Linked DNA regions of Homo sapiens. The protein of the gene in region 5 purifies or fractionates together with the protein of the main gene of each other region. This does not show direct contact. Each region holds a gene or a part of one and is shown on either strand. Other genes may lie near its edges.

What was found.
Region 1: the proteins of SMARCA4 (region 5) and BAZ1B fractionate together in Homo sapiens (co-fractionation; 3 studies listed by BioGRID, with this or other methods). This does not show direct contact.
Region 2: the proteins of SMARCA4 (region 5) and MYEF2 purify together in Homo sapiens (affinity purification with western blotting; 3 studies listed by BioGRID, with this or other methods). This does not show direct contact.
Region 3: the proteins of SMARCA4 (region 5) and CREB1 purify together in Homo sapiens (affinity purification with western blotting; 3 studies listed by BioGRID, with this or other methods). This does not show direct contact.
Region 4: the proteins of SMARCA4 (region 5) and TOP2B fractionate together in Homo sapiens (co-fractionation; 3 studies listed by BioGRID, with this or other methods). This does not show direct contact.
Region 6: the proteins of SMARCA4 (region 5) and TOP2A purify together in Homo sapiens (affinity purification with western blotting; 3 studies listed by BioGRID and IntAct, with this or other methods). This does not show direct contact.
Region 7: the proteins of SMARCA4 (region 5) and ATF3 purify together in Homo sapiens (affinity purification with western blotting; 2 studies listed by BioGRID). This does not show direct contact.

The regions. Positions count from the first base shown.
Region 1 is NC_000007.14:73,469,760-73,473,956, reverse strand, and holds part of BAZ1B (tyrosine-protein kinase BAZ1B), read left to right. Parts: intron 1-3,473; coding exon 3,474-3,612; intron 3,613-4,197. UniProt on the Homo sapiens protein: Atypical tyrosine-protein kinase that plays a central role in chromatin remodeling and acts as a transcription regulator. Involved in DNA damage response by phosphorylating 'Tyr-142' of histone H2AX (H2AXY142ph).
Region 2 is NC_000015.10:48,167,896-48,172,092, forward strand, and holds part of MYEF2 (myelin expression factor 2), read right to left. Parts: intron 945-4,197; coding exon 736-944; intron 1-735. UniProt on the Homo sapiens protein: Transcriptional repressor of the myelin basic protein gene (MBP). Binds to the proximal MB1 element 5'-TTGTCC-3' of the MBP promoter. Its binding to MB1 and function are inhibited by PURA.
Region 3 is NC_000002.12:207,602,411-207,606,634, reverse strand, and holds the end of CREB1 (cyclic AMP-responsive element-binding protein 1), read right to left. Parts: 3' UTR 647-4,224; downstream 1-646.
Region 4 is NC_000003.12:25,630,156-25,634,352, forward strand, and holds part of TOP2B (DNA topoisomerase 2-beta), read right to left. Parts: intron 3,860-4,197; coding exon 3,686-3,859; intron 2,640-3,685; coding exon 2,538-2,639; intron 2,429-2,537; coding exon 2,291-2,428; intron 785-2,290; coding exon 646-784; intron 315-645; coding exon 157-314; intron 1-156. UniProt on the Homo sapiens protein: Key decatenating enzyme that alters DNA topology by binding to two double-stranded DNA molecules, generating a double-stranded break in one of the strands, passing the intact strand through the broken strand, and religating the broken strand.
Region 5 is NC_000019.10:11,026,528-11,030,724, reverse strand, and holds part of SMARCA4 (SWI/SNF-related matrix-associated actin-dependent regulator of chromatin subfamily A member 4), read right to left. Parts: intron 2,942-4,197; coding exon 2,775-2,941; intron 1-2,774. UniProt on the Homo sapiens protein: ATPase involved in transcriptional activation and repression of select genes by chromatin remodeling (alteration of DNA-nucleosome topology).
Region 6 is NC_000017.11:40,403,925-40,408,121, forward strand, and holds part of TOP2A (DNA topoisomerase 2-alpha), read right to left. Parts: coding exon 4,043-4,197; intron 3,751-4,042; coding exon 3,625-3,750; intron 3,019-3,624; coding exon 2,908-3,018; intron 2,766-2,907; coding exon 2,660-2,765; intron 2,570-2,659; coding exon 2,460-2,569; intron 960-2,459; coding exon 867-959; intron 568-866; coding exon 453-567; intron 350-452; coding exon 228-349; intron 1-227. UniProt on the Homo sapiens protein: Key decatenating enzyme that alters DNA topology by binding to two double-stranded DNA molecules, generating a double-stranded break in one of the strands, passing the intact strand through the broken strand, and religating the broken strand.
Region 7 is NC_000001.11:212,611,532-212,615,728, reverse strand, and holds part of ATF3 (cyclic AMP-dependent transcription factor ATF-3), read right to left. Parts: intron 712-4,197; 5' UTR 708-711; coding exon 468-707; intron 1-467.

The DNA.
Region 1 (4,197 bases), on a different chromosome or scaffold from region 5:
GTCTCATTCTGTCACCCAAGCTGGAGTGCAGCAGTGTGATCTCAGCTCACTGCAGCCTTGACCTCTTGGGCTCAAGTGGTCCTCCCACTTCGGCCTCCCGAGCAGCTGGGACTTACAGGCATGTGTCAGCACGCCTGGCTAATCTTTTTATTATTTGTGGAGGCTGGTATTGAACCCCTAAACTCAAGCAATCTTCCTGCTTCAGCCTCCTAAAGTGCTGGGATTACAGGCCTGAGCCACCAAACCCCGGCTTGAATAGTTCTTTCATTAGAAAATGTATATTCCTTTTAAAACAAATTTTAGTTTACACTACTTAAGGCCATTGAAATATTTTTGCATATGTATGCATACTGTGCCTGAGTATACATATGTAATGTGTACTTTCCATTTTATTTATTTTTTTGGATACAGAGCGTCGCTCTGTCGCTCAGGCTGGAGTGCAATGGTGCGATCTGGCTCACTGCAACCTCCACCTCCCAGGTTCAAGCTATTCTCGTGCCTCAGCCTCCTGAGTAGCTGGGATAACAAGGCATCTGCTACCACACTCAGCTAATTTTTGTATTTTTAGTAGAGATGGGGATTCACCATGTTGGTTAGGCTGGTCCCAAAACTCTGACCTCAAATGAACTGCCTGCCTCAACTTGCCAAATTGCTGGGATTAAAGGCATGAGCCACCGCCCCTGGCCATTGTATTAACATTTTAAAGACATATGAACAGGCCAGGCTCGGTGGCTCACAGCCTGTAATCCTACACTTCGGGAGGCTGAGGCAGGCAGATCACGAGGTCAGGAGATCAAGACCATTCTGGCCAACACGGTGAAACCCTGTCTCTACTAAAAATACAAAAATTAGCCTGGCATGGTGGCGCATGCCTGTAATCCCAGCTACTCAGGATGCTGAGGCAGGAGAATTGCTTGAACCAGGGAGTCTGAGGTTGCAGTGAGCCAAGATCGGCCACCGTACTCCAGCCTGGGGGACAGAGCGAGACTCTTGTCTTTTTTAAAAAAAAAAAAAGATCAGCTGGGTGTGGTGGTGCCTGTAATTCCAGCTACTCGGCCTATAATTCCAGCTACTCGGGAAGCTGAGACAGGATAATCGCTTGAACCAGGGAGTTGGAGGTTGCAGAGAGCCGAGATCACACCACTGCACTCCAGCCTGATGATAGAGCGAGACTCCATCTCAAAATAAATAAATAAATAAATAAATAAATAAATTAGCTGGCTGTGGTGGCACACGCCTGTAATCCCAGCTACTTGGGAGGCTGCGGCAGGAGAATCGCTTGAACCTGGGAGGCAGAGGTTGCAGTGAGCCGAGATCATGCCGTTGCACTCCAGACTGGGTGACAGGGTGAGACTCCGTCTCAAAACAAAACAATACCTATCAAGAAAGTATAACTGCGGCCGGGCGCAGTGGCTCAACACCTACAATCCCAGCACTTGGGGAGGCTGAGGTGGGCGGATCACCTGAGGTTGGGAGTTCAAGACCAGCCTGACCAACATGAAGAAACCTTGTCTCTACTAAAAATACAAAATTAGCCGGGCGTGGTGACACATGCCTGTAATCCCAGCTACTCGGTAGACTGAGGCAGGAGAATCACTTGAACCCGGCAGGCGGAGGTTGCGGTGAGGCGAGATCATACCATTGCACTCCAGCCTGGACAACACGAGAGAAACTCTGTCTCAAAAAAAAGAAAAAAAAAAAAAGTATAACTGTGTTCCAGATGAAGCAGAATGTAGGTTAAAACCTTCAGCTCTATTTTATCTGAAACGTAATAATTTCTTCTTGCATTTTTGGACTGCTCCACTGTGTTTTATATTTATCTTAAGAGAAGGAAAAGAAGATGATACTCTGTTATTTGTATGGAAACAAGAGACAGAATATTAGTGTTTTACCAAGATCAGTATTTGGATTAGAGTTCAGGTCTTTGGATAACTAGTTCAGTGCTGTAACCTCTGAGACAGAATTTGGTCTTCCTTTGGTGACTTGTCCTAAGTTGGTTTATGTTTGTTTGTAGTCTTGGGAGACTGAACTTTTCCTTGATTGTAATTGGGCCATCACTCACTCTCTCGCTTTTTTTTTTTTTTAATCATTTACCTTTGTGCTATTTTCTACTATAACCATTGTTACAAATACACAGTTTCACTTGGGCTAGAAAACTGTTTATCAAAGGTAACAAATTCCATGTTTTAAATAAATGGAATTTATCTTAAGTTTTTAAAGTAACATCTTTAGACAGATGCATTTTCCAGATTTACATCTTATTGTAGATGTTATTGTCAATAGACAATCAGGGTTAAAAATTATTGGGGCTGAGTGCAGTGGCTCACATCTCTAATCCCAGCATTTTGAGAGGCCGAGGCAGGAGGATCGCTTGAGCCCAGAAGTTTGAGACCAGCTTGGGCAAACATAGTAAGACCCTATCTCTAAAAAAATAATAAACACTTCTTAAAAATTGTGACATTGTAAATAGCATTGCCATGTACCCTATGGTGTCAAGGTTTGTGACAATTATGGAAAAACTTAACAAAATTAGCGGGCTGCTTTTGTTGAGGGAAATTTCTAACTGAATAAACCTAATTAATGAATGATCAGAAATAAAATTTTTATCATTAACAGTAACTTGCAGAATAATTAGAAAAATAGGTGTTCAATGTAAAATAATTATTATCCACAAGTGCGTCCCTGCTGTTGCTTTTCAGGTTTGTTTTCTTGTCATCAGGGCTATTAAGCCAAATTACTGTCAGATTCCTCAGGACTGAAATATGTTTTATTTTGAAATAGTTATTTTACTAGTTTGATTTATCGTGATCTTTTTGAGGATCCTGTAGGTGCACCTGTCAGAAGATGTTTCAGTTAGTCCTATTTATGGACTGTTAACTGTTTCTTCAGGATTGTTTAAAATATATTAAGAAGTGATATTTTGGCTGGGTGTGGTGGCTCACGCCTATAATCCCAGCACTTTGAGGGGCCGAGACGGGTGGATCAGTTGAGGTCAGGAGTTCGAGACCAGCCTGGACAACATGGGGAAACCCCGTCTCTACTAAAAATGTAAAAATTAGCTGGACACGGTGGTGTGTGCCTGTAGTCCAGCGACACAGGAGGCTGAGGCGGGAGAATTGCTTGAACCCAGGAGGCAGAGGTTGCAGTGAGCCGAGATCGCACCACTGCACTCCACCCTGGGTGACAGAGCAAGACTCTGCCTCAAAACAAAAACAAAAAGAAGTGATATTTTGGAGATAAAAGATTTTGCATTGAGTTGAGGGATGAGATGTCACCACAAATTCAAGGAGTGTAGGAGGACTAGATGTTGCTGCCTTACATGTAATTTCTTGTAACAGATTAGAATTAGAGAAAGCAAACTAAGATTTGATAACTACTGTATACTAGGCACTTTTTACTCCATATTTTATTTAATTTGTAAGAGTGGGATTTACTAGGAAAATATCTGATTTGAGTCTTTTTATTTTTAACAGTGAAACTGGAACGCCAAGCTGAAGAAGAACGAATACGGAAGCACAAAGCAGCTGCTGAGAAAGCTTTCCAGGAAGGGATTGCCAAGGCCAAACTAGTCATGCGCAGGACTCCTATTGGCACAGATCGAAACCATAATAGGTCAGTTCCTAAACCAAATTTTTGTTTTCTTTAGGACTATTTACATTGCTATTAGTTAGGAAAATTTTCTAAAGTACAAGAATAGACAAGCTTCTCTCTTCAGTTTTCCAATTCTTTTTGGAAACAGAATTGTTGATGATTATTGAATATTAACTGCCAAATGCTAGAGTTGCAAAGTTAAGTAAGACATATTCCTGCCCTTGCATATACCACAAGTAGGAAGCTTACATGATGGTGATAGGTGAAATGTAATCCAAGTCTTTAAAAATGGCAGTAGGTTTTAAATACATACATTTTGTGAAACCTAAAGGAGAAATATTAGTAGTTACACAAATTAGGGCTGGGCGTGGTGGTTCACACCTGTAATCCTACACTTTGGGAGGCTGAGTCGAGAGGATTGCTTGAGGCCAGGAGTTCAAGACCAGCCCGGCCAACATAGCGAGACCCCATTTCAATTTAAAAAAGAAAGAAATTATACAAATTACGAACATTAAGCTAGTCTCCAGTTTCAACATTTCTCGTATACTTTGATTTACCTTGCAATTTTTATCTGTCTAGAGTTCTGAAGAGGAAGAATTCTGTAAA
Region 2 (4,197 bases), on a different chromosome or scaffold from region 5:
ACCAATCAAATAGTTGTCACCTTACAACAGATACACCAATGCAATTTAAAAAAAAAAATTTATTAGAAGAGATCAGCCTCAAAGCCAAGTACATAGTTTGCAGGACTGTTGAAACTCAATTTTTCAAGAGATAACAAAACTAACTTTTACAAGATCAAGTATTAAAATTATTTTTCCCCAAAACCAACCATGTATATAAGATGAAGGTTTTCAGATTATTCTGAAAACAAAACTGCAACAGCAGTAATGCAATTTTAATTTAGAACTGCAAAGACAGCATCATGGCAGTCATGACAATGCAAACAAAATAAATTCCACAGCCAGATTCCAGACTCCACCAAGATAGTAACAAAACAGCTTTTGGAAAAAAAATAAATAATCAGACCTTATTATTCATTCTTAACACGCTAAATGTATTGCTTAACTAATGCAATAGCCCTTTTAAAATCTATAAAAACTTCAACTAGACAAAGCAATCACTTTAACAAAATTCTTGGTGGCATGCATATGCTGGCTCGCTACTATCCCACTAAAATGGCAAAAAGAAAAATATCCATACTACCTTGTAATGAAATTGTGTCAAGAGAAAGAAGAGGAAAAGATTAATTCACATGTCAAGAAATAAAAATCAATTTTTTGAGTCTGTGTGGCTCAGAGGAATAAAAATGTTTGTGTAGTTCCCTCCCCTGCCTATATGAAGATTATCCAACAGTGGGTTATTTCAGAGATAGTTACCTTTCTCTCTCATTAGATCTTTAATAGCTTGCCATTTCATGTCATATGGGATGTTGCTAATGAAAACTCTGTTACGATTTGGACCCTTCTTTTCTCCAGCGCCCGAATTCTTGTCTTTTGAATAAGGATGAAATCTATTGGCCTTCTTACTTCCTGTAGATTTTTCCTTTAAGTCAGATTTCTCTTCTTTTGCTGATTCATCATTCTCCCTGTGAATTAAAAAAAGTCAAACAAACAAAAACCCTCAGTTGTGCTTATAAGAATGGAAGTCTATATTAAATAAGTATTCCATATTTATCACCTCACAAAACTCTCCACTAAGCTAGACCTCAGCAAAGTAGCTGGAGAATCAGCCTGAGAGCTTTGAAATTACCCAATGCTATTTCAAAGCAAGGATTTGGTTTCTCATTTAACAGTCCTCATTTTTTTCCCACATTAAATAGTTGTAAGCATCCAAACAATCACCCAGTTTTTCCCATCACACTACTTAATTAATAAATGCTATTAGACTGGAACAGAGGGAAGAGCAGATAATTTTACTTCTAAGGTATCTAAAACTGCCACCTTTGATGGAGAATTAACTTTCTGGGCATCATTAAAAACTTTTTTAAAAACTAACTTACACAGTGATACTCTGAAAAAGTTCATCTCTTAAAGGTTAATAGTTTCTTCTCAGAACTTTCTCCTCCCTTAATTAGAAGCATAATTAAAATACAAAGTTATGTATATAAATCCACATCTATATATGAATATACTCACATTAAGACTCTCAAACTTTCTTCTATTCCCAATTTTGATCAACACAGAAAACTTATAAAGTATCCTAATATTTTATGTTACATTTTAACCTATAAACTAGAATAGGGTACTTCATCAAATTATGCAGTTTCATTAATATTACCTACAATGGGTAATGTAGGACAGAAGCAGTACATAAAAGCAACGTAAGCCAAAATTTTATAAACCTGATTTTTTTTTTTTTTTTGAGACGGAGTTTTGCTCTGTCACCCAGGCTGGAGTGCAGTGGTGCAATCTCGACTCACTGCAACCTCCGCCTCCCAGGTCCAAGCAATTCTCTGCCTTAGCCTCCTGAGCAGCTGGGATTACAGGTGCCCACCACCATGCCCAGCTAATTTTTTGTATTTTTAGTAGAGACGGGGTTTCATCATCTTGGCCAGGCTGATCTTGAACTCCTGACCTCGTGATCCACTCACCTCGCCTCCCAAAGTGCTGGGATTACAGGCGTGAGCCACCACGCCTGGCCAAACCTGATTTTTAATGAGGCCTTAACTAGAAAAAAAAGTAATTTATAATACCGTAATCACAATGCAACTCTATGATGTCATATGCCAACCATCCAAAAGATGTAGGCATACACTTAAACCCTACAGATAAAAATTTGGATTTCTATTTTAAAATGCAATTTACTTTTCAAAACAAGTCTTTTTTACAGCACAAACAATAGGGTTTTTTGTGGGGGTTTTTGTTGCTGTTGTTGTTGTTGTTGTTGTTTGAGATACAGTCTCATTCTGTCACCCAGGCTGGAGTACAGTGGCAAGATCTCGGCTCACTGCAATCTCCGCCTCCTGGGTTCAAGGAATTCTCCTTCCTCAGCCTCCCAAGTAGCTGGAATTACAGGTGTCTGCCACTACACCCAGCTAATTTTTGTATTTTTAGTAGAGACAGGGTTTCACCATGTTGGCCAGGCTGGTCTCAAACTCCTGACCTCTGGTGATCCACCCGCCTCGGCCTCCCAAAGTGCTGGGATTACAGGTGTGAGCCACCGTGCCCGGCCAATAGATTTCTTATTTAAATAAGTGCTCTAGTCAATTTAAAACTATTTTAATAACAAAACTTCAATTTTAAAGCAATTTTTCACAAACATTACTAATAATATCACTGTGGATGACACCCAGGAATCTAAATTTTTTTTAAAGCTTTCTGGATTATTCTGACAACAAACCAAGTTTCATGAGCCAGGCTCTAAATTATCTTCTAAGCCCAGCAATTCTGGTGATCCACACATTGCAATGCTCCACACACCTCTAACTGCAGTCATTTGTTACATAATATATACAGAGCTTCTTGAACACTACTCTTCTTTGTAGGTAACACAGCCATAAATATAGTATGTAAACTCTATGAGAACAAAAACTATCTGCTTTGGTATCAGCAGCACCTCGCACGGTGACTGCATATAACATTGTGCTATAATTTTTTAATGAATTAACAGTCAATTAAGAATCCATACTCATCTGAGCACAGATGTTGCCAGAAAAACTGCTAGAATAAAGAAAGAGACATTTGGACCAAACTTGCTTTGCCATTTTTTTTAGACCTTAAAAAGGACATCTTCACTATCAAACATATTCCTTCATCAGAAATGGCATGGCCTAGGGGGGAGTCTTCTCAACTGTCTAAATCTAGAAAGTACCTACCTGTCTAAACAGAGTGACACTTTTGAAAATGGCAGCAAGCAGCCAAAAGGCACAAAGGCCTTTTCTCTGGTTTCTGAGTACCGCAGATAGAAGAACAAACCTTTCTTTTCAATTCCCAAAGGGCCTGTTTACATAATAGGCTTAGATGAATTCAGTGAATGTTTGTAAAGTAACTAAGACTCTATTCAGTAAGCAGATATCTATATAGTCTCTAGATTAATACCCCTTCCCCTGCCTATTTTCTTCCTGGATTAAACCAATTGTGAAAATTACACAAAGTTCTGAAGTACTTACAATGTTCTATTCTTGACTTAGGTGGGGTTACATAGATTAAATATTTGCTTACAACAATCTGAAAATTCCATTAAAAACAGTAACATTATATATAATATTTTCTTTAAAATATTTACTCAAAGATGATCAGAGAAAGTAAATTTCTTCATTTTTCCCCCATAAGAAGCATCTTAAAAATACTGCTAAACTGCTCATCTATGATGTAGAATTAAAATTTATCTTAAGTTTCTTCCCAGTGTATAACAAAAAAAGAAAAAAAACTATAAAAGGCATAACAGTTGAGAGGCTACAGGGATGATCTAATTATTAAGAAACTGAGCCATAATTATATAATTTCTGAACTATTTCCAAGTCATAAATACTTTGGAAGAGAAAGTAAAAATATATGTGAAAACTCTTAAGGAAATGATGCTACATAATTCCAAAATATTGGTACTACATCCAGAATTCCAAGTACTAAATTCCCAAACTGTTCATTTAGACAACCACTCCCACAATGTACTTAAAATAAAAACCCTAAAATAGTCATAAAAATGTTATCTATTCTTAAAATTGAACTATGCGTATCTAAATTATAACATACATTTCTGAAAAAAATCAAGCTCCAACATCAAAAGAAGAAACATAGTTTTAATGTGTGATTTTAAAAGTATAATGGTGTAGTATGAGATCCAATATTAATCCCAGTTCCAGAGGAAAACTACCAGAGGGCAGTTCAGAGCAGTAAATG
Region 3 (4,224 bases), on a different chromosome or scaffold from region 5:
TCAAGGTCTTTAACATGAATTGGTAAGTACAGTGAGTATAGAGAACCCTCCTCTGGGAAGCTGGAAACTTGTACTATCTTAGCACTGACATAAACAGCATGACACCGGACAGTCCTTAGCTCTGTTTTACCTTAAAACTTGAAGTTTTTTTTGAGACGGGAGCCTTGCTCTGTCGCCCAGGCTGGAGTGCAATGGCGCAATCTCGGCTCACTGCAACCTCCGCCTCCTGGGTTCAAGTGATTCTCCTGCCTCAGCCTCCCGAGTAGCTGGGATTACAGGCGCCTGCCACCATGCCTGGCTAATTTTTGTATTTTTTAGTAGAGATGAGGTTTCACCATGTTGGTCAGGCTGGTCTCGAACTCCTGACCTCAGGTGATCTGCCCTCCTCTGCCTCGGCCTCCCAAAGTGATGGGATTACAGGCGTGAGCCACCCGCACCCCGGCCCAACTTGAAGATTTAATTGTTAGCTTTCTGCTCTAAAATCATGTTACACCTTTCCTTCTACAACCAGAGGGGTTAAAAATTTAGTAACACTAGAAAAGATGGCATATTGAAAACTTGTTTCTTTGCTAAGAACAGTTATTTCTGAGGATATTAGAAAGAAAACAGTATTAACAGAGATGAGAAAAGGAAAGCCTTATGAAAGTCTGTGCCACTTCTAATTTTAATTCCAGAAAAAAATGCCTAGACTGTAAAGTTTGACATAAAAATAGTAATCAACATAAGTTAATAAAAATTGCTTAGCAGATACCTAATAATCATTAGGAAACAATATCCAAATATGAAGAAAACCATAATTCAGAAATAACTTTTACTTCTCAGTATCCTGGAGATACAACTTGTGTAGACCTAGTTACCAACCTCTGTATATCTGTAACAGTAAAAAATTTCAAACAGCCAAATGTCCCCAGAAGAGGACTGGTTAAACTGTATCTGTACAATGGCAGCAGTTTATAAACCACTGTTTGTACCTACCTTTTGTGTAAAAAAAGGGAGAGGGAGGAGGAGAGAACATACATTATATTTGTGTATATATGCACAGACTGTCACAAAAAACATAACACAAAAAACTTCTTACAGTTTGCCCTTTTCCATGTTTCTTTTTTTTAGAAGTGTACATATTACATAAAGTAAGTTTGAAAACAATGAGGACATTATAAAGCAAAAACTTATAGGCGAAAATATTATAAGGGCCTAGTACCCAGAATATATAAGGAACTCAGAACCCAACAACAAAATTTCAATGAACAAAGGACCTCAACAGACATTTCTTCAAAGAAGATACGCAGATGGCCAAAGACAACAAAAGATGCTCCACATCATTAGTAATCAGGGAAATGCAAATCAAAACCACAATGAGAGACCACACCCATGAGGATGGCTATAATTTTTAAAATGGCAAAATAAGTGTTGGTGAAGGTGTGGAGAAATTGGAACCCTCATACATCAATGGTGGAAGGTAAAACGGTACAGCTGCTGAGGGAAAGTTTGACAGTTCCTCAAAAAGTTAAATGTGCGATTTCAACATGACCCAGCAACTCCACTCCCAGGCATATACCCCAAATAATTGAAAACACGGACTCAAATACTTGTACACGAACATTCATAACAGCACTATGAACATTAGCCAAACAGTAGAAACAACTCAACTGGATGAATCGATAAACTTGTGGTATATATCTACAATGGCATACTTACTATAAAAAGTATACTTAGCTATAAAAAGGAATGAAGTAGTGATAACATGTTACAATGGATCAACCTCAACAACACATTAAAGCTAGACGAAAGAAGTAATACACAGTGTATGAGTCTCACATGAAATACCCGGATGTAAATCCAAAGAAACAGGAAGCAGATTGGTGGTTGCCAGGGACAAGGGCGGTGGGAGGAGAAAATGGAGAGTAACGGGACTTTACTTTTGGAGTGATGAGAATGTTTTGGAGCTAGATAGAAGTGGTGGTTGTACACCATTGTGGATGTACTACCACTTAATTGTTCACTTAAAAAGTTAATTTATGTGAATTGCATCTTAATTAAAAACAAGGATAACATTCCAACTCCTGGACATTATCCTTCCTTTCCATTTGATGTCAGGCCCGTGTTAGAATTCTCATCCGGTTTGGTCACTGCACTTAAGAAAGATGTGGAGAAATTAGGACGCACAGTTAAGAAGAAGGATAACACTGATTAAGGTAGTGCTTTTCTAGGTTTCCCCTAAACAATTTAACAGATGGATAGTGGCACCACTTACGAGATGGAAAAACCAGCGGAAGGAAGATTTGGGGGAGAAGTTAAGTTTGTCTTGGGCCTGTGTTTTGCAACCTGAGTGTAAAAGACATATGTTAAGTCTTCAGTGGCGAAACACTAAAACTAGAAATGGATCAGAATTTTATCTTTGGATGTGACTTCTCAAGGATGGTCTTGTCACTTCAGTGCCTGGTCAAATGACAAGATGGGCAATCTTTTCCTGAAGGTCCAAGCACCTGAACGTGGCAGGGTGACCCGATTCCGATTTGCTTAGAACAATCCTAGTTCATGCCTATTGTCCCTCATGTAATTAATATCACTCTCAAAATGTCTCATTTTGTGCAATAAATTCTGTAATCGTTGTTGCAGAAAATAAATGAAATTCATTAAGCCTTCCAATACAATGGCAGGTATAGCAGGCTTGAACACATCTTGGCAGTGAAGAAACATACAAATAATGCAGCTGCTTATTTTCAGATGTCTCGTCTCAGAACTTATTTCAGAAGTTAATAGTATAGGAGATAACTTTTTTATTCTTACAGCTTAAGCAAAGATTAACCATATCCCCTCCCCTTTCCTTCCAATTTATATGATCACAGAGTTTTAGAATTGCAAGGGGACCTGAGAAGGTATATAGTCTTATTGTCCTTTCAGTGAACACGTGTTTTATGACATCAGACACAGCTGGTCGTATGTCTCCATTAGTCATCTTGACAGTAACATCTCCAAATCCACAAATAGGCACTGTTCAATCTTATTGAAAAACAGGTTTTGTCCTGAAAATTAGGGATCCAGTAACTGAAGACATGTTGTTGTCTGAATTAGTTTTGCTGCCTTCCAACACAAGCTTGTAATATATTGTAACTTTAAGTCCAATAAAACATGGCTTCACACTACTAGCAAAAAAAACCCAACAAAATATAGAGATCCCATCCCCAAAAAAGAGACTTACAGAGTTTTTAAAAGCATGTTTATGTGACTGCACATAAATGTTTGTGTAAAAAGAGCATTATGACAGTTGATACCACAAAGATTACAGTAAGAAAAAGCACTTTATGACAATATTTCACAAATTCACAAGGATCACTTTAATATACAAAGCAACTGCTACTATTCTGAACACAAAGCAGCTATTATGTACATAGTGTTAATAAAATGCATTGTAACTCAGTACATTTTTTTCTTTACACATAAAGCACAAAAAGATTTAGATAAAAAAATTAAAACAGGGATGTTTCTAGAATGTAGGGAATTTTATTAGAAATGTATTTCCCTCATTATAGTTATTTATTTAGTATTCAACTCCAATAGAAACATCAGAGTTAAAAATCAATACCCTGTTTTGTGCTGACAGTTGTGGGGGAAGTCTTCTTTACCCCAACCCTCAAAAACCAAAAAGCCAAACACCTTTCTAGGAACTTCCCTGATTATTTTGCTTCTAAAAAGTTTCAAGTGATACATCTGGGTTAGAAATAATTCCTTTTGCAGGGAGTGGGGGAGTTACAACTGACATGTGGACAAATCAGTCAAGGACAACTTTACATGGAAAACTGCTAACTAGCACTCTTCTTTGCCACCCCTAATAAATCTATACTCAAAAAAAATGTTGACAATTATTTCCCACTTTTAATATAAATAATTTTATTACATACACAAATTGGAGTGGCACTTGGATAAAAATACATCTATAAAGCATTTACCAATTTTAAAAACATAAGAAAATAAAACCTCCCAAACACAATGATAGATCATTTCACTTGGCCAACAAACATAAAATCATTATTTGCAGAGATTTTCTTCCTCCCTACCAATTTTTAAGCTAACTCAGATTTACTCTCACTTCTCTGAGATGCTCCTCAGACAAAAGCTTGGAAATGCCATACTTCTATAGGCAAGTAATGTTAGGTCAAATGTGAATTTCCTACTCTTTGATCCTTTTCAAAGACAATTCCAAAAGATTGTTCATTTTCCTTT
Region 4 (4,197 bases), on a different chromosome or scaffold from region 5:
TGTTCAAAAAGGAAAAGCACTGAGAGTAGTTTGAAGTGTTGAAATATACGAGTCAGAAATTACATTTAAAAATTCGAGAAGTTTAGTAAAGTATTAGAAATGTCATATGTATGTGTGCATGTGTGTATACACATATATATACACACACATACATACCTGTTTATGAGAAGCTTCCCGTACATTAAGAATTTTGCCCCTGAGTGGAAAAACTCCGTATCTGTCTCGTCCAATCACACCTAATCCAGACACAGCCAGTGATTTGGCAGAGTCTCCCTCTGTTAATATCAGTGTACACTCCAGGGAATGTTTACCACCTGAGAGAAATTTAAAATTATACATAGTAAAAATTTCTCATACTTTCACTGATGAGAAAAATGAAGTCAGAAAATTAACATTAGAATGCTGACAGTGAAAGACTATAAAAGTTATTTTACATTATTGCTCAGTATAAATATTAAGTATATTTTATTAAATTCCTATCCCCTGAAAATTAGTAATATGTTGTGTATGTGATAATTTCAATGAAGTAAAATCATACTCTGAATGGAAAATCATAGTCTAACTATATGTAGAAAATAAAAAAATTCTGTAACTAAATAAAAGTGAAACTTAAATCAAAATCTTATTTAAAAATATCAATCTTACCAGCATCATTAGCATCATCCAGTTTGGGAATACCTTTGATTTTACTGTATTTTACTGATGAACACTTCTTATTCAGCTGAGTCTGAGCCTTAAATTTCACCCAGTTCAGGATACTTTCTACAATGCCACAATTAGAGGCCTAAAAATAAAAGAATAATGGTATACAAACAAGCTGAAAATTCATACATTTAGCTAAAATGTATAGGGCCTAATGCAAGACCTGGAATCTGTGCAATTTTAAGGTATTTTAGGGCAAAACAATAATGGTGATAAGCATCATGATACATGCTAATCAGCTTTTACTCAACTACTGTAAAATTAAAGCTAAAATATAAATACATGAAAAAGGATAACTTTTACATATGAGAAACATTCTATTATAATAAACTCCATGAGGAATATGCATTGCTCTTGTTACAAATTAATTTTATTAAAATTAACACAGTGAAAACAGATCCACACATGAACCTACTAGCCGGCAAATTCCAGACGTTGACATTTCTGATATCCTTCAATACAAAACGTGAGTCTTTAATTCACTATGACAAAAAGTATTAACCTAAAAGGAACATTAGGATAACCTTGGTAACTTATGAATAGACTTTTATTCTTTAAATAGCTTGGTAATAAAGATTTCAACATTACATATTGTTTGTACTCTGCAGTGAATCAATCTGTGGCAAGATGTTAACCCAGACAGAAAAAGGAAAAGAAAGTTAAGCATCTCCAACTCTAAGTCCTAAAAGTTTTTTTATCATCCTCGGTGATTTGATGTTAGGTGTATAAAACAGTTTTCTGGAATGTTTAAGACATAAACAAAAGAGGTGAACTGTGTTGTCAAATTTAAACTTAGTGCACCTAAAATGAAAAAGTATAAAATTTAAAATCAAATCACTTCATCAAGGAAACAATTGTTATGAGGACAGAAATTTGGGAAAGCATTAATATAGCATAATTTGTACTCAGAATTCATTAAGATTAGATCCAAAAGTACTATTTCTACAGGCCTTAAGTTAGAACCTAAAAAACAACTTTTGTTTTTGTTTCTGATAATCTACTTTTTGGAATTTGAGAAATACATTAGTTCTAGGGCAGTTATAGAGCATTTCCCCACCAAAATTCCAAAGAGGAGAGGCTGTGATTGATTCATCTCCATTATTTATTTGTGCTCTCACCTTATTTTAGAGAAGTTAAGGTAGCCTAAAAAAATTATGTGCAAAGCAAAGCAATTTAAGAACATGTAGAAAATAGTACATTTTGTTATACATGTTACCACAATTTTTAAACATGTATAAAGATAAGAATCAGTAGATCAAGTTGAAATGAGAGTAGAAAAGATGAAAGAGTTGCATAAGGATCTGGACATCTGTTAGGGGAAATCTGACCTTTACAATGGTCAATACAAAGCTAAAAATGCAATTAGTTACATAATTCCCTACTTTAGTTCTTGGCAAAACAATTGTTTTAGGAAACATTAAAGTCTACCCTTTAAAGTTATCAAATTAAGCATATTAGTTTGTAGTGCAAGCATGCTTATACCCACAGTTAATACGATGAAAGAAACTAATCACAAATAAAGTAAATCAAGAAAACTACCTAATCAACTCTTAATAACAACAATAAAAAAAATACAAGTTTTACTCACTGCTTTAAAAAATTTTTCTGACAGCTGGCATTTAGACCCAAAACTTTTGGGCTGCAGAGTCATGTTTTCCTTAGTCTGAGAATCAAAAGTTGGATTTTCAATAAGGCAATTAATAAAAACCCATATATGGTTTTTTACCTGTTGAAAACATACCCAAAAAAGTCAATATCAGAGCTGATATTTAGTAATTCAGTATATATATAATGCATATGTATGCATCATGTACAATATATAACACATCCCTTACTTGAAATGGTTTCACTGATACACCAGCTTTGTTCTTTTTCTTAACTACTTCAATCAGTTTACCAACAACTTGATCTACCACATAATCCACGTGCCGTCCACCCTAAAGAAAAAAAAATATATGAAATCTGAAATCCTGTATTGTTAAAGTAGCAAAATACTTTATCTGTATTATAAACCCTATTTTCTAAAAGAGTAATAGAGTCTCAGAACGAGAGTTGAGATTTTAAAAAAATAAGACATTTTGGCTACAGAGCCAATAAACCAACCGCTGTGTTTTTTTTGTTTGTTTGTTTGTTTGCTTTCCTCACTTCAATTCTAACACCAATTCTCAGGTGCTTTCAACACCAGCAACCAATTCTCTGATTCTCCAGACACCAAATGGATGTTCAACAATGTAATTCAATTTTGATACTAACTACCTGGAGTTAGCACAAGTATTTAGGGTTGGTTAAGGGCTCAATCCCACAGGACTCCCCACACTTCAGATGCCAGTTACAAGTCCTAGGCCTCCTGTACTTCTAACGAACCTATGACCCACTCCTCAGGAATGATAATTTGCTGGAACAGGTCACAGAACTCAAGAACACACTTTACTTCATTTACAAGTTTTTTATATAGGATCCAGCAATAATAGCCAAATGGAAGAGATGCATAGGGCATAGTACAGGGGAAAGGGTACACAAAGCTCCATGCCTTACCCAGACATGCCACCCTCTTGGCACCTCAAATGTATTCACCAACCTAGGAGTTCTGTGAACTCCATTGTTCAGGAGTTTTTACAGAGCTTTATCACATAGCCATAATTGATTTTTAACTCAGTCACCAGCCCCCTCTCCTCTCCCCAGAGGTTGGGGAAGGTGGGGCTAAAAGTTACAGAAAAAGGAATTTGTTATTCTAAATTTCATAAAATATAAATATGTTCAACTACAAACACTAGTCATATAAATTTATTTCTCAATAATTGTTTAAATAAATTTTAATACAGCAATTTCATAGAAAATAGGTTTTTGTTTTCATAAGTCAATTCTTATTTAACAAAAACAGATTTGGGTTTTTTGGGGGTTGTGGATATTGTTATTTGTTTTGTAGTTTTTATTGAAGTACTGTTCTACCACTGACTTGGAAACAAATAATTTGCTTACTTACTTTTGTAGTTGCAATACTATTTACAAAGCTGATTTGCTGGAATCCTTTTTCACTCAATGTGAGACAAACATCCCATCTTTCATTTGCAAGCTCATGAATAACTTTCAGGGCCACCCCAGTTTCATCCAATTTGTCTTTCACATAAAGATCTACATAACTGCGAAATCCATTTACCTATTAATTTAAAAAACAAAAACAATTAAAAATCTTACACTGGCAGCTCAAATAGGTGAATCACCTTCAGTACGTATACTTTCATTTCCTCTCACTTACAACAGTTCTAAGTGCACCGATCCAAACCTTAGTGGCATTTCCCAGATCTATTCCTTAACCCTTGACCTTTAAAAAAGAAATTCATTTCTATGTGTACTTGACAAAAAGAGGATGTGAAGGGACAGGTAAATTGTTATAAAATATTTCAGAAATTTCTATTTTTAAAATGATAAGGTAGACTTCCAGTTTCAGTTCAGACAGATAATGAACTAGCAGGAAAAAAAGCTTCCATCCTTGTA
Region 5 (4,197 bases):
GGGCACAGAGGAGAACAGGGTCAGCGGGGTGACCTCAGGGGTAGAGTGGGGACACCAAGGAACACCTGCTTCTGAGAGCAGGAGCAGGATCAGCACCTGCCAGCATCCCCAGATCCCTGGCTCCGCACTCTCCACACGGGCCTGTGGGCCACTGGCGAATAACTGGATTTCCAGTGTTTCACCACAAAACGTCTCTCCACACATCCCAGAAATGAAAACAGGCCCCGCTGGGAGAACTAGAGGAGGTGGGCCTGGAGCACAGAGTCCAGCACCCAGCCCACAGCTAGGCCACAGCGTCCAGCGTCAGCACAGCCACCACCACCACAGCCCTGGATTCTCTCCTCTACTCTACCCTGTGCCATTCCATGGGGAGCGGAAGACACAGCGGCCAATGCCGGCAACACCGCCGCTCGCAACACAAGGGACCTGGGGGTGGGTGGACAGTGACTGTGGGTGCACCTGCCTTCAGCCCTGTCTCAAAAAGTTTTGTGGTTCACAAAGAGAATCTTCTACGGTAAAAGCATGGAGACCTTATAAAGGGGGCTCGTGTCCTTTCTGGCAGGATCAGTGTCCCCATGCCCCAGAAAACCCAAGTCAAGGAGCCAGAGCAGGTCTCCTGGGTGACAACCCACGATGCCCTCAGCGTTGTGGGCATTAAGGCAATGTCAACACTCCCTGCGCTGCTGGGAGTTCGGACAGAGGTGCCCCTGAACACTGAAGTCATTTTGGTGATGAAATAAAAACTGGCAGGCCGGGCGCGGTGACTCATGCCTGTAATCCCAACACTTTGGGAGGCTGAGGTGGGTGGATCGCCTGAGGACAGGAGTTCGAGACCAGCCTGGCCAACATGGTGAAACCCCGTCTCTACTAAAAATACAAGAAAATTAGCTGGGCGTAGTGGCGGGCGCCTGTAATCCCAGATACCAGGGAGGATGAGGCAGGAGAATCGCTTGAATCCAGGCGGCGGAGGTTGCAGTGAGCTGAGATCATGCCACTGCACTCCAGCCTGGGCAACAAGAGTGAAACTCCGTCTCAAAAAAAAGAAGAAATAAAAACTGGCCATTTCCTGCCACCAGCCTACACATGCCCAGGCACGGTGCAGAAGCCCACAGTAGCCTGGCCATCCACCTGCCGTCCCACCCTCTCTCAGGCACCAGATGTGCCCCTGCTACTCCAGCTCGGAGGAGGGGCTGAGGTGAGGGGCCACCCGGCTCCCAGATGCCAGCCCACCCATGGGAGATGCAGTCTCAGGAGACTTCACTGAGCTCCTACCCTTCCTCTACTCGCAATGGATTCTCTGGCCCTGTGGCCATGACCACATCACATGCAGAGGACACATCTGTAGTTCAACTGACCAAAGTCCTTGTCCTTATGGAGTAGGCAGAAGGGCACTGGGATGGGTGGGAACCAGGCTCTCTCCTGGGGGAGTCAGGGACACGACACAGACGGGATGGCCCTCAGGAAGCCTTGGCCCTCTCGAGGACGGGAGAAGCCGCTGGAGAGACCGTAGGAGAGGAAAGGGTGGGGGGTGGCCCGGCCATGAGGACCCTGAAGGATTTTGGTTTTCAGCCTCAAAGCTGAAAGTGGGAAGCCCCCAAGGAAGAAGGCAAGCCGGGGAGACCCCTGCAACAGACTCGTGTCTGTAGAGTGGTCCTGGACAGAACCCCGGGGAGGACCTGCAGTTTGGAGGGACACACAGGGCACACTCCGGGTGGCACCTGGGCAGGTTGGCCCAGCAAACACAGGTCCAAGTGATCAACGGGACAAGGGGTATGGAGGTCTGGGGTGTCCTGCTGTGAGACAGACCTTGCACAGGAGCTTCAACAAAGGCTCTGGGAGGTCGTGTAGGGAACAACAAACTGGCTGAGCCGTGTCTGTCTCAGCAGCTCATGCTCGTGTTTCTCGTAAGCCCAGTTCTAGTAACTCCCACGAAGAACTCACTCCAGGGCTCCCTGACCCACTGGGACTGACAGACATGTCTCACGTGCCCTGTCGGCATCTCACAGCCTCTCCTCCCTGAGCTCCCGTGTGCTGGGGCAGGCAGGCGCAGAAACACAGGCGGTGACCTTTCCCATCAGGGACCGCAGGGCAGGGGGTTGGGCTGAGAGCCTCTCTACGGCAGCTGCTGCTCCTGCCTGGCAGTGCTTGCTTCCCTCCCTCCGTGCTCACCACAGAGTCTGATTCCAGGTCCAGGCCTGACCTGTGGCAAGGTGGCAGTCACTGGGCTGCTACGAATGGCCCAGGGATGGGCATGCGGCTCACAGCAGCTAAATGAGAGCCAGCCTGGGACCTGCCTTTGTTGGGGACACTGAGCAGGTGGAAAGGAAGCCAAGATGGAAGAAGGCAGAGCAAAGAGCTGGAGAAAAGTCTCTCCAATATCACCTGCATGCCTGGATCCAGCTGTGCCTGAAGGATGTTTAACCTCCTGGGGTTAGAGCTATGTAAGCCTATTGGTGCTTTCTTTCCTGTGTCCACATGGTATGGAATTCTGTCACTTCCAGCTAAAAGTGCACAGGGCACCCCTTCCCCAGTGCGCCCAGCATTGTCGTGGAAAGACTGTCAGCCTAGGAGTCAGGACACCCGGCGTCCAATCCACGGCCTGTCCCAGTGCCGAGTGCCCAAGATGCTCAGCCTGTGGCTAGGCCCACTCTGGCCACTGGACCCAGAGCGCCTGGGCCTCACCCTGCCTCACAGGAGGGAATGCCAGTGAGGAGCTTCTGTGGCAGCCACAACAACAAAACCCTGTAAGAAACGCCTCACTGGCTCATACTCACCATCAAGCCTGAGGTATTTAAAGCCGCGATACGCAAAGTAATCTTCCATGATGGTCATGAGGGAGGTCATTTGGCAGAACAGCAGCACTTTGTGGTTGGTTGCTCGGAGTTTGGGAAGAATTCTATCAAGAAGCTCAAATTTACCCGAGGCTCGGTACAGGTCCAGCCTGGAGTGTGGAGGAGGCAGGAGAGAAGGCGCAGGATGTTAAACCTGGAACCCTGCAGGCAGGTAAGGCAGGAGGTGCATCGCCCGCCTCCAGGCCAGGCGCCGGGTTCAAGGGCACAGACATGCATCCTAAGCAGACGTCACCCACCCAAAGCTTCAGCAAAGCCATTTCCCCCAACTGAAATAAGCCCGGCCACCCTCGCTGGGGAGGCGTATCACCAGGGTGGCACATGTATTTCTCGTCAAACCCAGACACTCATGAAAATGAGAGGAGCTGTGAGTCACATGGCCGGCACAACACGGGGCTGGAACAGGGATGCTCCGGGAAGCCAGACCTTGTCCCCTTGCCCGATAAAGAAGCCCCAGGAGCAAATGCCACACTGGAGACACCCATGCTCTGCTAGACCCAGAAGGAAGGGCCACCTCGGCTTCTCATGTTCTCTCCAGCCAAACCCCAAGTGTTGTAGATGTGGACACTGAGGCTGGCAGGGGGACGACGTGATATGGCTGACCACATGTCCAAGCCAGGCCTCCCAGCCTTGAAGCCAGGTGTACAGGACCCTGTTCCACAACTCAGTATAAAAAAACACATCAAAAAGAATTTGTGATGTTTTCATTAGGCGCCTCTCTTCTTGCAAATGGCTTACTACCCCAGGGGAATTGAATGGAGGCTTTAGCTGGAAGAATGCTTTTAGCAAGGTTCTTTGCAATGGTGAAAATCTAGACACAGCATCCACATCCATTAGGGGCTTAAAGGAGTCTGGGCTGCCCCTTACAAAGGGTGCTATAGAAAACACCCACATGATGTAAAGAGTGCCTCTGTACTAGTGAGCAGAGTTTAGGCTCAGAGAGGTTAAGAAAGCTGTCTAGAGTCACAGAGCTTGGAGGCGGCAGAGTGGGATCTGTAAGCCAGGTCTGCCTCAGGAATCCTGTCTCTTGGGGTTAATAGTGGTCAGCTCTCCAAGCACTAAAGATTTGTATAATGGGGCCGGGCGCGGTGGCTCACACCTGTAATTCCAGCACTTTGGGAGGCCAAGGCGGGTGGATCACTTGAGGTCAGGAGTTCAAGATCAGCCTGGTCAACATGGTGAAACCCCATCTCTACTAAAAATACAAAAAATTAGCTGGGTGGTGGCAGGTGCCGGTAATCCCAGCTACTCGGGAGGCTGAGGCAGGAGAATCATTTGAACCCAGGAGGCAGAGGTTGCAGTGAGCCGAGATTGTGTCACTGCACTCCAGCCTGGGCAACAAGAGCAA
Region 6 (4,197 bases), on a different chromosome or scaffold from region 5:
ACATACTAAGCATTTTTTAATGTAGACCTTTGCAGACTTATGAATATCCCTGCAGGAATATTACTTTCAGAAATCAAAGGGCAAGCAGTTTTATTCTTTCACAGGTTTTACCAACTTGTTCTTTACTATGAATATATGAGCTTATACTTTCACCAAATCTGTTTTGAGAATGACTCTGCAGGGATTTCTGATATAATGCTTTCTGGAAACATGGATTGTGTGTTTACCTCACCATGATGATAAGAAGACATTTCAGCCACTGATCCAGCTAATTGGGCAACCTTTACTTCTCGCTTGTCATTCCGTTTGAAGCAAGTAAACAAAACCTTTCTCTGACCTGGTTTCAAACCTTTAAAATGAAATAAGAGCAAACGTAAGTATCCTCAATTTAACCAATTTTGGAATTTGATTTCCATCTTACAATGAAAACAGACTAACAAATTGGAACTCACCATCCACCATAGAAGGGATAGATCTCTCGTTATCAGAATTTGAGAACAAGATAAGTTCCTTGTTGATGAAGTCATTATATGTCAGATATGTGGTAGTTTGTCCATACAAGTAATCCTGAAGGACCAAATAGTATTACATGAGTCTACCGGTCTAAACAATGCTCAACACAAAAATCAAACAGAAACCTTTCAGAACTAAGAATTATTTCTGTAATTCTTAAGTCTTTAAAAAATATTGAATAATACAGAAATATTTTATATGTTTTAAAGATAAAGCAAATTTAACTGCTGCACAACTCTATCATATCAAATTTTTTACTAAAATAACTATTCAGTAAGTTTAATTTGCTATAGTATCAATACCAAAAGGTCAGTCTAACAATCCATTTTGTGGCATATATTTAAAACTTTTACCTCAGGAAGCCCAAGTAACTTTCGTTGTCTTCTATCCTCCATGAAATTAGTTAACCATTCCTTTCGATCATCTATCTGTTTTTTGCTAAAGGCCTATAAATTAAAGGATGAAAAGATGTCACTGGTACTAATAGGCTAATAGGTTCCAAAATATCCTTCTACAAAGAACGAACAACAGAAAAACAAAAATACTGTTTTCCTTTTTTTTTTTTTTTGAGACGGGAGTTACTGTTCTCTTGCCCAGCCTGGAGTGCAATGGTGTCATCTTGGCTCACTGCAACCTCTGCGTCCTAGGTTCAAGCGATTCTCCTGCCTCAGCCTCCTGAGCCCCTGGGATTAAAGGCGCCCGCCACCACGCCCAGCTAATTTTTGTATTTTTTTTTTTTTGAAATGGAGTTTCACTCTTGTGGAATGTGATGGCACGATTTCGGCTCCCACAACCTCCACTTCCCAAGTTCAAGTGATTCTCCTGCCTCAGCCTCCCGTGTAGCTGGGATTACAGGCACGTGCCACCACACCCAGCTAATATTTTGTATTTTTAGTAGAGATGGGGTTTCACCATGTTGGTCAGGCTGGTCTTGAACTCCCGAGCTCAGGTGATCCACCCGCCTCGGCCTCCCAAAGTGCTATGATTACTGGTGTGAGCCACTGCGCCCGACCTTTTTTGTTTTTTTTTTTTTTTGAGACAGAGTCTCGCTCTGTCGCCCAGGCTGGAGTGCAGTGGCACCATCTCAGCTCACTGCAAGCTCCGCCTCCTGGGTTCACGCCATTCTCCTGCCTCAGCCTCCGGAGTAGCTGGGATTACAGGCGCGTGTCACCAAGCCCGGCTAATTTTTTATTTTTTATTTTTTTTTATTTTTAGTAGAGACGGGGTTTCACCGTGTTAGCCAGGATGGTCTCCATCTCATGACGTTGTGATCTGCCCGACTTAGCCTTCCAAAGTACTGGCATTACAGGCGTGAGCCACCACGCCTGGCCTTTTTCCTTTTTTTTTGAGATGGAGTCTCACTCTGTTGCCCAGGCTGGAGAGCAGTGGCCTGATCTCGGCTCACTGCAACCTCTGCCTCTCGGGTTCAAGCGATTCTCCTGCCTCAGCTTCCCAAGTAGCTGGGACTATAGCTGCGTGCCACCACGGCCGGCTAATTTTTTGTATTTTTAGCAGAGATGGGGTTTCACCTTGTTAGCCAGGATGGTCTTGATCTCCTGACCTTGTGATCTGCTCGCCTCTGCCTCCCAAAGTGCTGGGATTACAGGCGTGAGCCACTACGCTCGGCCAATTTTCGTATTTTTAGTAGAGAGGGGGTTTCACCATGTTGGACAGGTTGGTCTCCAACTCTTGATCTCAGGTGATCCACCTGCCTTGGCCTCCCAAAGTCCTAGAATTATAGGCATGAGCCACCAAGCCCAGCCAAAAATCAAAATTTTCTAAAATATCTGATTCCTTCTCTGGGATATGCTTACTGGAAACATTCTATTCTATAAAACATTCTTTTTTTTTTGATACGGAGTCTTATACAAAAATGTAAATGTTTCAACTGGCTAAAGTAGTGATTTCTAAAATTAGAATGTATATAAAATACAACTCAAACCTACCAGGCTGATAGCAGCATCATCTTCAGGACCAGAATATTTGAACTGGATACGATGTCTTTTCATATCTGCAAAGTATTCTTTAGCTTCCTTTGATGTGCTGGTGCCCAAACCTATAAAACCAAAAATACCAAGTTCCTTCATATAGTCTTGTACAGGGTGTATAATAAAATGAGAAGTTCTATATGGGTTTCATTACAAACCTTTGTAATATTTGACTTTCCATTTTTTATGATTTGGAGTAGAACTCTTCCACTCTTCAAATTCAGGAAGGCTGTAAAATGCCATTTCTTGCTTGTTTTTAGATACCTGTGATAAAAAACAATGACTGTGGCTTTGTACACTGTGGGGTCCCCTGTATACCACTACATGTGACGGGGCTTATATGTATATCCAGGTTTGAGGAGTAGGGTCTTAAAATATCCATGATGGTACTTAGAAATTAGCGTACCTTTACAATGGGAGTGATAAATTCCTCCAGAAAACGATGTCGCAGAAGAGAGGGCCAGTTGTGATGGATAAAATTAATCAGCAAGCCTTTGATGTGGGAACCATCTTGGTCCTAGAAAGATTTGAAAGCCAAAGTTCAAAAGAACTGTTAGGCTGGGCGTGGTAGCTAACATCTGTAATCCCAGAACTTTGGGAGGCCGAGGCAGGCGGATCGCCTGAGGTCAGGCGTTCGAGACCAGCCTGGCCAACATGGTGAAACCCTGTCTCCACTAAAAATACAAAAATTAGTTGGGTGTGGTGGCATCCGCCTGCAATCCCAGCTACTCGGGAGGCTGAGGCAGGAGAATCGCTTGAACCCATGAGGCGGAGGTTGCAGTGAGCCAAGATTGCACCATTGCACTCCAGCCTGGGCGACAAGGGCGAAACTCCATCTCAAACAAACAAAGAATTGTTTAGAAATAAAAAAATATTATGACTGACCTACTGGCAATTTGTCAAATTTTCTATGGGAATCAAAAAAGGTCTGTTCAAATCCAGACTCACTTAACCTGTATTTGCAACATACATATGATATAAGCATATCTGATTAGATGTTGATTAGAGATGATGAATAAAGCTCCTATTTAACTAATTTATTTTCATGGCAAAAAACAATGAAATTAAATTAAGACATGCTTAATTTAGTTGAACAATCTAAAAATTTAATAACAAATCTGACCTGATCTGTCATAATCATTATCTTCCCATAACGAAGCGTCTTCAATGAATCTTCATCTTCATAGTTTTTCTTGTACTGAAGACCCACAATCTTGATGATATTGTTAATCTCAGCATTTTCCATGATCTGAAATGGACATATACCAAAAAAAGCATCGTTTATAAATTTGAAAAGAACAAAGAAATTTAACAGTATATGTTGCTTGGATTTTCTTGAGCTCCAGTATTTTGAGCTATTAGCTTATAATTTACTACATCAGAAAGGTCTGTTAAAATAGGCTACAATGTACCTAATTTCTCAAAATAAGCACAAATTGTCTAAAATATATTTTAAAATGCCTAATGAGGGAATTAAATATAAGCATAAAGTCTTGTATTATAAATTAGATTTAGATTCTGAAGATCGTCTTATATTCTACCTGCTTATGAGAAGCTTCTCGAACATTGAGTATTTTTCCTCTAAGAGGGAAAACCCCATATTTGTCTCTCCCAACCACACCAAGGCCTGAAACAGCCAAAGTTTTGGCTGAATCTCCCTCAGTCAGGATAAGCGTACACTCAGTGGAGTTTCGGC
Region 7 (4,197 bases), on a different chromosome or scaffold from region 5:
GGGCTCAAGCGGTCCTCCCACCTCAGCCTCGCAAGTAGATGAGACTATAGGCCATGTACCACCTTGCCCAGCTAATACTGTCATAGAGATTGGGTTTCATTGTGTTGCCCAGGCTGGTCTCAAACTCCTGGACTCAAGCGATAATCCCATCTTGGCCTCTCAAAGTGCTGGGATTATAAGCGTGGGCCACCATGCCTGGCCTGAAAAGTTTTTAAACCCAGCAACCCCATCCCTACCCGTTCTCTCTGCCCCGCTCCCTGCTTTTTTCTCCTTTGCACTCATCTCTTAACGTGTACTTACGTATGTTATGTACTTCTGTCTCCTCCCAGGAGAAGGTAAGCTCCCTGAGGGCAGTGGTTTTGTTTGTTTCACTCTCAACAACAGCCCCCTGCCTAGAACATGCCCAACACACAGTGGCTGCGAGCGAAACATGTGCCGAAAGAATGAATACCTGTGATAGAACCCACCTCGGCTTTTGTGATGGACACCCCGAGGGGTCTGTCGCTGACAGTGACTGATTCCAGCGCAGAGGACATCCGGTGGCAGAGGTGCTTGTTCTGGATGGCAAACCTCAGCTCTTCCTTGACAAAGGGCGTCAGGTTAGCAAAATCCTCAAACACCAGTGACCCAGGAGGGGACAGGCAGGGGACGATGGCAGAAGCACTCACTTCCGAGGCAGAGACCTGGCCTGGGTGTTGAAGCATCATTTTGCTGAAAGACACATTGAAACCCAAACTGTTTCAGGGGCTCTGGGGCATGGGATCAAGTCCCCCTCCCCCACCAGACCTCCAACACCAGAGCCCCACCCTCAGAGAAAAGTCCCATAAGCCCTTGGGTTTCTGTTTTGTTTTCATTTCATGCCATCCTCATCTTAAGTAAAGCAGGTTCTTAAAATACACATAGCTCAGTGACATGAACAAAATGCCTATTTGAAATTTATAAGGGATGATGTTTCAGGCTACTCTGAATTCACAAGATCTATGAGTTTTGGCTGGTGTGCCTATGTGCAAATGTGGCCACAAACAGTCCTGAAAGAGGAAGAACATTTTTTAAAAATCAGTGAGGCCATTTTAAAAATCATGAGTAATCTCATTTTCAGCTTCTTTTTCTTTCTCTCTCTCTCTCTTTTTTTTTTTTTGTATATTACTCAAAATAAAGTTTCTTTCACTTAAAAAAAAAAGCCTCTTTTTCAAAGAGGCTTGACGTCAAGCTGAAACTATCAGTGAGTGGAAGTAAAAGCAAAAAGTGGGGAATCCTTGAATTTAGCAAATACATCTCTGAAGCTTCTCCCCCGAAGTTGGGCCCAAGCAATGGGAATGAGAAAGGTAACTGTAGCCAGGTGCGTTTCTTCACCCCAGTCTTTGGCAGGGGATGGGGAGGTGGATTCTTAAGGTTAAGGTTGGCAAAGCAAAAGGTCTTAAAGAAAAGTGAGGCACTGTATTGTGGGGGAGTTGTTCAGGCCTGTGGTATAGGGATAGACTTAGGCTGGGTGTGGGGGCAGGGAACCCTGGGGCTGGCTCTGGCACTAAACAGCAGTGACTTGAGCTAGTAATTTCAGCTCTCTAGGACCCAGTCTGTGTCTGGTAAATGACTGACAGCTCCTCCAATGCAAGCATTGAGTCTCCACCATTGCTTTACCCAGAGCCTGGCCCAATGCCTGACTCGCCATGCCTCATTGGCCAACTGATAAATGAAGTGGGGATGGGGTCATCAAATCAAATGGCCCCCACGGTCCAAGGTTACCTTTCTCATTCCCATTGCTTGGGCCCAACTTCCGAGGGAGAAGCTTCAGTGATGTATTTGCTAAATTCATCTCCCTCTGTTATTCTATAGCTCGGTGAACCCAAAAGGATGACAAAAGGAAAATAAAGAGTAGAAATAGTGACAGTTCCATGGCCCCAATTTGGAAGAGTCCCCCATAAGTCTTGGCCTGCTGTGTACTCCCTCCAGTGGTGGCCATTTCCCCTCCTCCCTGCAGTTGGTTCCCAAGGGACAATGAGTATAGGGATGAGTGTAGGATGAGTGTGGTCTGGGCATTCCTCTCAACCGGGGATCTGTGGTCATTAGCACAGTCCAGACAGAGAAGAAGCCCTCTGGCAAGTCTCGAACATTTAAGGAGTGCCTCCTTCATACCAGAAACCTTAGGGGCACTATCTCATTTAATCCTCACGAGAACCCAGTGAGTTAAGATCTAGCTGCCTTTTATAGATGAGATAATTGAGGTTTAGACAAACTAAGTCATTTGCCCGAATTCACAGAATTAATATGGGGCAGCATCAGGATTTGGAATTAAGTTAGTTTGGCTCCAGGATTCATGCCCTTAATTTGTACATTGCAAAAAACAAACAAATATTATTCTACATTACAAAAACAAACAAGCATTATGTTATATTGCACAAACAAACAAAAAACCAGAGCAAATTTTCTCGGGGCAGGCCTTAAGGTAGGTGGGAGGCCTGGAAATGAAGTGATAGAGGGGAGGCTAAGTAAAGATTCCTCGGGATAAACTGAACTCTGTTTAATGAACTGCTAATCTTTATGTCACGGTGCATACCCAGGCTGCTTGCTAACTGCCTTCTGGGAGTGTGAGCAAGTGGGTCTCTTATCCACAAAATTCCCAGACTGAGGTCAGAAGATGAAGATTTGAAGCCCACTTACTCCATTATGTGTTATCATTGTACCTCCCCGTGGCTTTTTCTCCTCTGTTAAAGAGGGCTTGTAATAATCGCCCTATTTTCCCATAATATCCTATGAGGAATTGAGGAACTAATACATGAATATGCCCTGGAAAACATTCTTTGGCCAGGAGCTCCATGATTACTAGGCCTCCCAGAGATCTCTCCAGCCCAGGGCTGGCTCTCTGACAGAGGCTCTGTGGAGTCCAGGAAGGAGGGCAGCTGGTCACCCACTTTGATCTCAAAGGCTTCTGAATAGAATACCCTGACTTCAAACTCCCCCTGGAGATCTAACATACACCAATGGAGGCAAGACTTCCAGGCCAATGAAATCTGCCCTTGACTAGTCAAAGAAACCCAGGCTATGTATGTAATTCTTTTCCCAAAGCCCTGTGTCATGAGTCAGAACTGAAGTTCTTCTCTCAATTTAATCCTATAATCTTAGGATGCTGGGAGGATACTTGTCGCTGTCAGGCAATAAACTCTGAGAAACTAGCCTTCTAAAGCCAGAGGCTTAAGATTCTCCCATGCATTCATGTTTCCCTTCCCTTTCCAAGTTTATTAAAAACTCAGTGATTCGGGGATGACATTCAGAGCTGCCACTGGGCTGGTCTTTGTTTGGAGGCCTGGATGGCTCCCTTCTACACGGGGACTTTGAATTCCACTGCAGTAGAGTGTAGTTCCATTTTGCCATCCAACTAGGTTTATTAATGAGCTCTCAGGGCTTGGGGTCTGCTGTTTATGACTCCCGCCCCCTACCCTTCTTCTTATGTAAAGTCAGCAGTCCCAATGAAAGAAGCTGAAGAATGTCAGTGGTATGGAATGCTTTTATGAAAAGCATTGGGTGGGCTTCCTTGGGGACATAAATGGTTGTAAAAATGTTAAAAGCCTTTCAGAAAATAAAACAGATGTATCTGTCGAGATTTGGGTTTTCTCGGCACTAGGCTAAAGCTTAACTTCTCGGGATACTTTCTAGTTATTCCTTTACTCAGTCTCTCGAGGTATGATTCAGCCTAGACTACGGCTGTGTCCCCACAAGGAAATGAAGTTAAATCTTCACACAATTTTTCAGAAAGTTGAGATCCTCAAACATCCCGGTCATTGAAAAAAATTGTTTGGGGACCTCAGATCAGAGTTGACTTTCTATGCTGATCATAAAATTGTTCAGACTTGCTACCAAGAACTTGCATTTTGTTTCTGCTTGATTATTTCCAATCAGAAATCATGTTGTATCATTGGCAGTTTCATCATTTTCAAGAAAGTGAAAGTTTACTCATGTATTCCTTTAACTGGAAATTCAGCTCCCAGATTTTTATTTCCTAGTAGCTACAGCTACATTGAATTTTCACTTTTAATTTTCATCCTCTTTCCACTAAGCATTGCTTGCTAACCATCTTATGTTACTAGGAAGCCAGTACTGGCCTTTCACTAACTCTTCATATCTTGGTCTTCCTCCCAGACCTCTTGAAGAGGTGCAAAGCTGGGCATCAAGGGCCAGAGACAATGTTTCTAAGCCTATCAG